Regions from separate parts of the Homo sapiens genome. Here regions 2, 3 and 4 are each linked to region 1. The links come from fine-mapping of genetic effects on gene expression. A gene starts in region 1. Each other region holds a variant in brackets. All regions are shown on one strand. Distances are from middle to middle.

Region 1 (2,692 bases):
TGGAAGGTGAAGTTCATATCACTATCTGGCCATTTCTCACAGTTCCAAGTTTCTCAGACAATAGGTAGGCTAACCTAGTCCTCCTGGGAACTATCTAATTAACGTAGAATAGAACCCGAGGGCAGACTTGAAAAACAGAAGTCCTCCTTGGTTTACTTTGTTTCTCTGAAAGCAAATTGTGGAGTGCCAACATAGCCAAACAAAATATTTTATCAACTTCATAAGGTGCTTGTAATTTTTTCCTGGAGCAGGTAAATGCTGGCTTAGTGAACAATCTGGAATGTGGTAATTACTCTCGTTCTTGTTTCAGATGTACTATCAGCATGTAGCAGTTTCCAACTGATTCAGGGTTTTCCTAAAGTGGCAGGCCTTGGCAGAGGTGGTGACAACAATGCCCGTGTCAAATGACACCGTATTTCAAGTATTCTGACTCCAGGTTATTAATATCCCCTATATGATAGTCTTGTTTCTGTGATATTCACAGATTATGTTAAAAGTTTCCCAAAGTCTGAGAAAAATCATATCTTAACAGTATCTTTTTTTTTTTTGATCCTTTGTACAAAAGTAGAAGTAATGCCAGACAGATTACGTACCCTTGTTGTGAACAACTGGTGCATGGCAACTGTTTGAATAGAAATTTACCAACTGCCACAACCAGGCAACTACTCTCCCAGAGCCTAACAATCTCGATTGCATCTGAAAGGGCCACCCCTCCTGGGAAAGTGCAGGACCTCCCTCCTGTTTCTGAATACAAAGCCTGGTGGTGTTCAACGCGGCCAGATAGACCCAATGAGCACACGGACATGTAATCTGTGCACTTCTTTAGACAACTGATTACCATCAGTCAAGTGATGCCCAAGTCACAATAGTCACTTCCTTTAAGCAAGTCTGTGTCATCTCGGAGCTGTGAAGCAACCAGGTCATGTCCCACAGAATGGGGAGCACACCGACTTGCATTGCTGCCCTCATATGCAAGTCATCACCACTCTCTAGAAGCTTGGGCTGAAATTGTGCAGGCGTCTCCACACCCCCATCTCATCCCGCATGATCTCCTCGCCGGCAGGGACCGTCTCGGGTTCCTAGCGAACCCCGACTTGGTCCGCAGAAGCCGCGCGCCGCCCACCCTCCGGCCTTCCCCCAGGCGAGGCCTCTCAGTACCCGAGGCTCCCTTTTCTCGAGCCCGCAGCGGCAGCGCTCCCAGCGGGTCCCCGGGAAGGAGACAGCTCGGGTACTGAGGGCGGGAAAGCAAGGAAGAGGCCAGATCCCCATCCCTTGTCCCTGCGCCGCCGCCGCCGCCGCCGCCGCCGGGAAGCCCGGGGCCCGGATGCAGGCAATTCCACCAGTCGCTAGAGGCGAAAGCCCGACACCCAGCTTCGGTCAGAGAAATGAGAGGGAAAGTAAAAATGCGTCGAGCTCTGAGGAGAGCCCCCGCTTCTACCCGCGCCTCTTCCCGGCAGCCGAACCCCAAACAGCCACCCGCCAGGATGCCGCCTCCTCACTCACCCACTCGCCACCGCCTGCGCCTCCGCCGCCGCGGGCGCAGGCACCGCAACCGCAGCCCCGCCCCGGGCCCGCCCCCGGGCCCGCCCCGACCACGCCCCGGCCCCGGCCCCGGCCCCTAGCGCGCGACTCCTGAGTTCCAGAGCTTGCTACAGGCTGCGGTTGTTTCCCTCCTTGTTTTCTTCTGGTTAATCTTTATCAGGTCTTTTCTTGTTCACCCTCAGCGAGTACTGTGAGAGCAAGTAGTGGGGAGAGAGGGTGGGAAAAACAAAAACACACACCTCCTAAACCCACACCTGCTCTTGCTAGACCCCGCCCCCAAAAGAGAAGCAACCGGGCAGCAGGGACGGCTGACACACCAAGCGTCATCTTTTACGTGGGCGGAACTTGTCGCTGTTTGACGCACCTCTCTTTCCTAGCGGGACACCGTAGGTTACGTCTGTCTGTTTTCTATGTGCGATGACGTTTTCTCACGAGGCTAGCGAAATGGGGCGGGGCAACTTGTCCTGTTCTTTTATCTTAAGACCCGCTCTGGAGGAGCGTTGGCGCAATAGCGTGTGCGAACCTTAATAGGGGAGGCTGCTGGATCTGGAGAAAGTGAAGACGATTTCGTGGTTTTGAATGGTTTTGTTTGTGCTTGGTAGGCAGTGGGCGCTCAACACATAATTGGTGGATGAAATTTTGTTTTTACCGTAAGACACTGTTAAGTGCATTCAAAACTCCACTGCAAACCCTGGTAGGGGACAGCTCCGGCACTGCGGGCGGGAATCCCACGGTCCCCTGCAAAGTCATCGCAATTTTGCCTTTACATGTAAGAATTCTCTCAAGCATGATTTTCACACTGGGGAATGTCATTTTTGCTAGTTGCAATATGTGGATGAGTTGTTTTTTTTTAACTTTTGAAAAACGTACCATTCTGTTTGATGTGTAAAAAACACAAAGATTTTTGAAACCTTGCGTCTTTTGGTCTGCAGGTGTATAGATTCCACTTACTACAGATGAGTAGCATTTACACCACTCAGATGTGTAAAAAAACAAAGGTTTTTTAAACTGTGTGCCTTTTGATCTGCAAGTGTGAGATGGCACTTACTACAGTGAGTAGCATTTAATCTTTTTCATCACTAAAAATCACACAGAACGTTTTAATCATTCACCGAGGAAGAAAGGGAGGAATAAATACACAAAATGGCTC
Region 2 (2,692 bases), 81 kb after region 1:
AAGCTAAGTGTTATCACAAATGAGTCAAAAAGTTAAAAAACTAACAAACTTATAAATTTAAAAAGTTACAGCAAGCTAAGACTAATTAATTATTGAAGGAAGAAAGTAGCTTTTTATAAATTTAATGTAGCCTAAGTGTACAGTGTTTATAAAGTCCACAGTAGTGTGTAGTAAAGTTCTAGGCTTTCACATTCACTCACCACTCACTCACTGACTCACCCAGAGTAACTTACAGTCCTGCAAGCTTAATTTATGGTAAGTGCCCTGAACAGGCGTACCATTTTAAATCTTTTATACCAGTACTTTTATTGTACCTTTTCTATGTTAAATAGGTTTAGATACACAAATACTTTTCATCATTTTAACTGCCTGCAGTATTCAGTACAGTAACATGCTGTACCAGTTTGTAGTCTAGGAGCAATAGGCTATGCTATAGCCTAGGTATGTAGCAGGCTATACCCTCTAGGTTTATGTAAGTTCACTCTACGATGTTTACACAAATATGAAATCACCTATAACACATTTTTCAGAATGTATCCCCATCATTAAGTAACACATGACTGTACCACTCTGACATATGAATATCATGAATTATTAAATTCCATTAAATTATGACTAAGAAAATTAATGTATCTGCATGAAGAATCTATGTTAAATAAAAATATTTTTAACATTTATGTAAATAACAATGTCACTTAAAGTCAATTATGTCTTTACAGTAATAAGAATTGGGAAAGGCCCAGCTTTAGGATGTTTTGCTTTTAAGTCGACTTTAATGTATAATTAACGTGCAGTAAAATGTACCTATTTAAAAGGTTCATTTTGATGACATTCTGCAAATGTATATGACTATGGGAACACTATCTCAATCAAGACCTTTCCATGACCCCAAGAAATTGCCTCATGCCTCTTTGTAGTCATCTCCCCCATCACCCCCATCCCTGGCCTCAGTCAACTGCTGGTCTGCTTTCTGTTACCATAGATTAGTTTTGCTTTTCTCTAGAATTTCATATAAATGGAATCATATAGTACGCACTCTTTTGTGTTTGGTTTCTTTATTTCAGCATAACATTATGGATATTCATATATTCTATTGCATATATCAGTACTTCATTCCTTTTTATTGTTGAACATATTCACTATGTGGATATACTGCAATCTGTTTATGTATTCTGTTACTAATGCACTTTTAGACTGTCTCCAGTATGGTGCTATTATGAACAAAGCTTTTATAAATATTCTTGCACAAATAGTTGTATGGACATGCATTTTACTTCTCTTGACTAAACAAAGGTAGAATTGCTGAGTAAAGGTTTTTATTTAAAATTTCTCTTATGTTTGCTTTATTTTATTTATTTTAGAATTAGGT[CT/C]ATTTTAGCCTCAAATAAATACCTCCTTATTTGTAATACAAACATTTGATCAAAGTTCTTCTGCAGAAAGGAGCCATAGTCTTTCTTTTTATCTTAGTTGGTGTTTAACTTCTTATACTCTGGCAGTAGTGATATGGAAGGGGAGCAAGGAAGTGCTGGGAGGAGAAGGGCAGGGCCCCGGCGAGGGCTGCACCCCTGGGCCTGTGCCCACGGACCTAGGTGAGGACAGGCACTTCTACCTTCACGCCCAAATGCTGCATTTCCCAGCACCGCCCTGGCCCGCCACGCCCCCATCCTATAAAAACCGCGACTAGCAGGCAGACACACAAGCAGCTGGACGTTGAGAGGAACACCTTGGTGGAAGAAGACACAAATGGCTGGACGTTGAGAGGATGTAGAGGGGAGCATGCTGGTGGAAGAGCACATGACAGACACTGGCACGCCAACAGGCCATCAGGCCATCGACCAGCGGAATGAGGCAGAGTTTGGCAGGGGCAGTTGGAGGAGAGCCCAGGCTACTGTGCAGCCTGACTCCAGGGGAAAACCATCTCCCTTCTGGCTCTCTCATCTGCTAAGTGCTACTTCCATTCAATAAAAGCTTGCATTTATTCTCAAAGCCCATGTGTGATCCGATTCTTCCGGTACACCAAGGCAAGAACCCCAGGATACAGAAAGCCCTCCGTCCTTACGACAACGCGTGGGTCTAATTGAGCTTACTAACACAAGCAGCGGGATGGCTAAACTAAAAGAGCACCTTGTAACATATGCCCACTGGAGCTTCAGCTGTAAACATTCACTCCCAGACACTGCTGTGGGGTCAGAGCCCCACAGCCTGCCTGCCTGTGTGCTCCCCTAAAAGTTTGAGCAGTGGGGTACTGAAGAAGCTAGCCACACCCCCATCGCACACCCTGTGAAGGGGGCAAGGGAACTTTTCCTGTTTCAGTACTCCAGATATGCTGCAATGTCTTTTGTAGTGTTGCCTATATTTCAGGAAACTGGGAGCTTAGTTTATATATGGAAAAAGGGAAGTATTCTCTGTGGTAAAGGTCATAAAGAAGAGAGCTGGAGACAGAGAGACAGTGTCAGGATCATCAGCCTGTGAATTGGGTAGAAAGGAGTGGTTAGGTATATGGAGCAAGATGAATACAGAAGAAGTAGGCTGAAACGCCTTTTAAATAAATACCAGAGTGAAATGCTGAGAACAGAACCAATTTCAAAACCATCTGTCTTTAAGTCCTTTTCATCTTTTAGAATACGAACATGTCACTTTTCCTTGGGTTCTTTAGAAACTCTAAAGGGTGAAAACTGTTAGGGATGTATTA
Region 3 (2,692 bases), 30 kb before region 1:
AATGACAAACATAAATTATGGTCTTTCTCCATAAAACTCAATTTGAGCACTAAAACTGACTTTTTACCATTTGTTATGAACATTCTGAACAATCACAATAAAAAGTAGTGCGGAGACACTATTCAAGTCTCTAAAAACATCTTAGGAGTGGTACATGAAGCAAAATGCTGGGTGTGAGTGTTTTTGCAGATTCAGGCTCCAAAGAACAAAAAAGCAGAAAAAACAAACAATGGTGTTTTTAAACAATGAATGTTGTTTTCCTTTAGCCATAAGGGAATTTTAAAACTTGACAAACTCATTCAGCTTTCAAAGCATTCCACATTCCCCACCCACAAGCAAATGCCAGAAGGTGCCAGTTTGAGCCAACTCAGCTCAGGAATGACTTTCTAAATACTGGATCAGATTTCTTGAATGTCCGCGCTCCACAGATGGATACTTACTATTGTCCTAATTGGTCTGATGAAAAGTACTTAGCAATTTATCAAGCAATTAATTTAACAAAAACATTTCAGCAAGAGATGAGATGGTGTGGCACAAATGCAGAAACAGAAATTTGAAAAGATTCAAATGTATTACTTCAAAAAGATTGAAAAATTGCTGCCTAAAATCTTTGAAACTTTAGAGCTAGGTTGTGCATAGGCTTAATTTTTAATGAAGAATCTTCTGGGAAAATAAGTTTTTGATTATATAAAGAAAGCAATTTCCTTGATTTGCAGGAAATAATTCTTTTTGGGGAAAAACAAATAAATTAATATTTAATATACTCATTACATCCATCCAGCTAACATTTACTGGAAGCATGCTGTGTGCCTGGCACCATGCTAGGCACTGAGACACAAAAATGAAAAAGACAAGAATCTTGTTCTTTAGCCTAGGTGGGGAGATAGATAAGCAAAGGAATAGTGTAATAAATGCAATAAAAGAAATACGTACTAGCTAGACCTGTGGGAAGAAAGGTTAGAAAGATGAACAGAAACTGTGCTAGAATTTTGGACCTAATTCTGTAAGTGTTGGAGAGCCATTAAGCAGAAGTGATCGTTAGATTTAATTTTAGAAGGATCATGCTGTTATCAATGTGAAGAATGGGCTGTAGTGGGGAAACGCCAAAGGCAGATTCTGTTCCACTCTTCATAAAAATCGTACCACAGCACTCTGATACCCTTTTTGCTCTCTAATCCATTTCTCTTTTCCCCCCAACACAGATAATTTAGAAATTATTTAGTCTTTTAAAAGCGCTGGTGTCCAAGTTTTTGAGGTTTTCCCAGATATTTGTTATTGGTTAATAATTTAATTCCATTGTGGTCAGAGAACATATTTTCTATGACTTGAATCCTTTTAAATTTATCAAGATTTGTTTCATGGCTCAAAATACGGTCTATCTTGGTACATGTTTCATGTACTCTTGGAAAGAATGTGTGATTTATTGTTGTTGGGGACTGCTGTGCTCTACAAATGTCATTTAAGTCAAATTGTTTGATAGTCTTGTTCTAATCTTCTATATCCTTACTGATTTTGTGTATTCTTGTTCTACTAAACATTGAAAGGATATTAAAATCTCCAGGCTGCGTG[C/T]AGTGGCTCATGCCTGTAATCCCAGCACTTTGGGAGGCCGAGGCAGGCAGATCACGAGGTCAGGAGATCGAGACCATCCTGGCTAACACGGTGAAACCCCGTCTCTACTAAAAATACAAAAAAATTAGCCAGGCGTGGTGGTGGCCGCCTGTAGTCCCAGCTACTGGGGAGGCTGAAGCAGGAGAATGGCGTGAACCTGGGAGGCGGAGCTTGCAGTGAGCTGAGATCCTGCCACTGCACTCCAGCCTGGGCGACAAAAAAAAAAAAAAAAAAAATCTCCAAACATAATTGTGGACTTGTCTACTTCTTACAGTTCTATCAGTTTTTGCTTCATCTATTTTGACACAGCTATGAGGTGAAAAAACATTTAGGACTGTTATATCCTTTTGCTGAACTGACTCTTTTATCATTATAAAATGATCATTTTTACCCCTGGTAATATTCTTTGCTCTGAAATCTATTTTGTTTCATATTGTCACTCCAGTTTTCTTCTAATTACCAATATGATGTATCTTTTCTCCATCCTTTTACTTTTAATCTGTTTGTTCGTCCTTTATTTTTAAGGTGTGTTTCCTGTTGGCAGCATATAGTTGGGTCTTGCTTTTTTATCTGATCTGAAAATCTGATTTTTTAAGGACATTTCTAAAATTGAAAAATAAAAGTTGTATATATTTATAGCATACAATATGATGTTTTGAAATAAGTATACATTGTGAAATGACTACAGTTAATTAATATATACATTACCTCACATATTTATTTGTAGAGAGAACACTTAAAAGATACTGTTAGCAATTTTCAAGTGTACAATATATGTTGTTGGTTATAGTCACATTGTACAATAGATCTCTTGATCTTTAGCTTATTCCTCCTATCTAACTGAATAAGTTGTACAATAGATCTCTTGAACTTATTCCTCCTGTCTAACTTTGACCAACATCTCCCCAGCCCACCGCCTCTCCCCAGCACCTGGTAACCATGTTTTTACTCTCTGCTTCTATGAGTTCCAAGTTTTTCAATTCTGTGTGTAAGTGAGATCATGTGGTATTAACAATCTCTGACTTTTAATTGGGGTGTTTTGAATGTTTATATTTAAATATCTTTAAAAGATAATTGACTGTAT
Region 4 (2,692 bases), 48 kb after region 1:
GTTAAGCATGTAGTATCTTAAGCTCTGCTTCAGACTCACTGAATCAGAATCTACATTTTTACAAGATTTCCAGGTGATTAGGATGCACATTAGTTTTGAGAAGCACTGGTATAGAACTCAGTTCCTGCTCTTCTCACCCTAGTAGCCTTGAACTAACTACCTATAGCCTTGAGCTTGTCCCTGGAGTACACGCTGTCCCTGTGGTGGCTGGCTGCCTGCAGCCAGTTCACCTACTTGTTTGGTCTTGTCAGTTCTGCCCGCTTTCAGATTGGCTATCACTGTGTTGGGCTCAACTCTTTCCTTACTTTATCATCTCATCTTAGATGGCCCAAAGCAGGTGTTTCCCACGGTTTCCCTTTGGTTGTCTGCCTTGATGATCTTTGGAAACTACATATCCAACTGGGCTCTCTTCCAATACCTGCAGCTCTCCATTCACCCAGTGCCTGCCCACCCAGGCCACTGATCCTGAGTATGTGAACCGACCAATGCTCTGACCCGATAAATGTCTTTATGTTTTCATCTGAAGAATTCCGTTTAAATGATTATTTCAAACTCCTTAATAATTGATCAACACCTAAAAAAGATGAAACAAAGTGATTTGAAAAAATGTGTTCCCTCAGAGACCTATTGGGAAAGCAAATTAAATATATGTGTAGAACTTGGCTTTAAGGGTATTACAATAACTTAGGTATAATTAACATGTATACAATTCAAGAATAAATCAACATAAAAAATAAAAATAAAAATGTCCATAGTATGAAAGATGCCATAAACAGAGATAAAAAGACAAGCATTGGCCAGGCGTGGTGGCTCATGCCTGTAATCCGACCACTTTGGAAGGCCGAGGCGGGCGGATCACGAGGTCAGGAGATAGAGAGCATCCTGGCTAACACGGTGAAACCCTGTCTCTACTAAAAATACAAAAAATTAGCCGGGTGTGGCAGCGGGCGCCTGTAGTCCCACCTACTCAGGAGGCTGAGGCAGGAGAATGGCGTGAACCCGGGAGGCGGAGCTTGCAGTGAGCCGAGATCGCGCCACTGCACTCCAGCCTGGGCGACAGAGCGAGACTCGGTCTCAAATAAATAAATAAATAAATAAATAAATAAAAGACAAGCATTGGTTTGGAAGAAAATCATTGCCATATACATAAAATACAAATGATTAACATCTTGAATATATAAAGAGCTCATATAAATCAATAAGAAAAAGATAACAGCTCAAGAGCTGAAAAGCAGAGGATGTGAACAGGTAGTTCACAGAAGGAGAAAAGCCAGTGATCCATAAAATAAAAGAATTAATGTTCAATCTCACTAGTAATTGGAAAAATGCATTAAAACAACATTGCGATAGTATTCTTCATCCATAAGATTGTTAATTAAAAGTATTATAACCAGTG[G/A]GGGTAAGGATGCAGTAAAACAGACATGTTCTTACACTGTTGATGTGAATCTAAACTGTTAGAGTCTTTTGGTGGGTTATTAAATTACAACTGTATTTTTCAAAATAAAAATATTTATATTCTATGCCTCCTTTGTGATTCCTCTTCCAAAACCCATACTAAAGAAATATGCATACATACAGCAAAAAGATACACAAGAATGTTTGTTAATTGCAGCATATTTTTAAATTATAAAAATTAGAAAAGTCCTAAGTGTCTATCAATGGGAGAATAAGTAATTAAGCTACAGTCCATCCATATTTTGGACTACTCTGCAATGAGTTGTGGCTGGGCGCGGTGGCTCACGCCTGTAAATCCCAGCACTTTGGGAGGATGAGGTGGGCGGATCACGAGGTCAGGAGATGGAGACCATCCTGGCTAACACGGTGAAACCCCATCTGTACTAAAAATACAAAAAAAAATTAGCTGGGCCTGATGGCAGGTGCCTGTATTCCCAGCTACTTGGGAGGCTGAGGCAGGAGAATGGCGTGAACCCAGGAGGTGGAGCTTGCAGTGAGCCGAGATTGTGCCACTGCACTCCAGCCTGGGCGACAGAGCAAGATTCTGTCTAAAAAAATAAAAAAATTAAAAAAAGAATGGGTTGTATGTATGTACAGTAGATATAGAGGAAGATGTACTAGAGGTTGCACACAATTTCTTCCTAGGCCTTATTATATCTATGTAATATATATTATGCACATATAGTATGTTACATATACATAACATATTTTTTAAATATATGTATGTATTTCCAAGACATATAATTTGGTTGAAAGCAAGTCATAGGACAATATCCACAATGCAATTCCATTTAAGTTAAAAAACCATACCTCTATATATGTATATATCAATATGTATGTATATATGTATGTATATACATTATACATACATGCATATAGGTAGAAACATTGAAAAAGAGCTAGAAAAACATTTACAACTAAAATGGTGTATTCTTCTGAGGAGATGAGGGTTGGATAGGGTAAGAATGAAGGAAGGGTTACTTTCGTGATTTGTTCAATAATCTTTGTGTTGTTTACATCTTTACAGTGAGAATATATACACATATATCATAATTGTATGACAAAAAACAACAAAGAGGGAAAAAAGAGGGAGGCAATAAAGAGCAAAAAAAAGTTACCACTAGACAGCTAACATTATGAAGATGATAAATATATGATGAAGATATTATATTATTTGATAACATATACATACATTACGTTATATTATCAAGATGGTAATTACCACGGGAAAGCTGAG

What was found. PIP is the estimated chance that this variant, and not a neighbour inherited with it, causes the effect.
Region 2: its variant is the best candidate, but not a certain one, in a credible set for the expression of C9orf72 in liver (GTEx, PIP 0.85).
Region 3: its variant is the best candidate, but not a certain one, in a credible set for the expression of C9orf72 in prefrontal cortex (BrainSeq, PIP 0.53).
Region 4: its variant is the best candidate, but not a certain one, in a credible set for the expression of C9orf72 in nasal epithelium (TOPMed, PIP 0.89).

Annotation. Positions count from the first base shown.
Region 1 is chr9:27,571,928-27,574,619 of GRCh38, forward strand. C9orf72 (C9orf72-SMCR8 complex subunit) reads right to left here and starts at 1,554. Exons shown (of 11, transcript NM_018325.5): 1 at 1,504-1,554. RefSeq lists enhancers at 948-1,037, 1,636-2,163 and a silencer at 1,548-1,627.
Region 2 is chr9:27,653,230-27,655,921 of GRCh38, forward strand. No RefSeq gene overlaps it. Among named protein-coding and RNA genes, the nearest start is that of C9orf72, 81 kb to the left of the region's middle. The variant CT/C (reference allele first, on the strand shown) is at 1,370.
Region 3 is chr9:27,542,366-27,545,057 of GRCh38, forward strand. No RefSeq gene overlaps it. Among named protein-coding and RNA genes, the nearest start is that of MOB3B, 14 kb to the left of the region's middle. The variant C/T (reference allele first, on the strand shown) is at 1,570.
Region 4 is chr9:27,620,166-27,622,857 of GRCh38, forward strand. No RefSeq gene overlaps it. Among named protein-coding and RNA genes, the nearest start is that of C9orf72, 48 kb to the left of the region's middle. The variant G/A (reference allele first, on the strand shown) is at 1,397.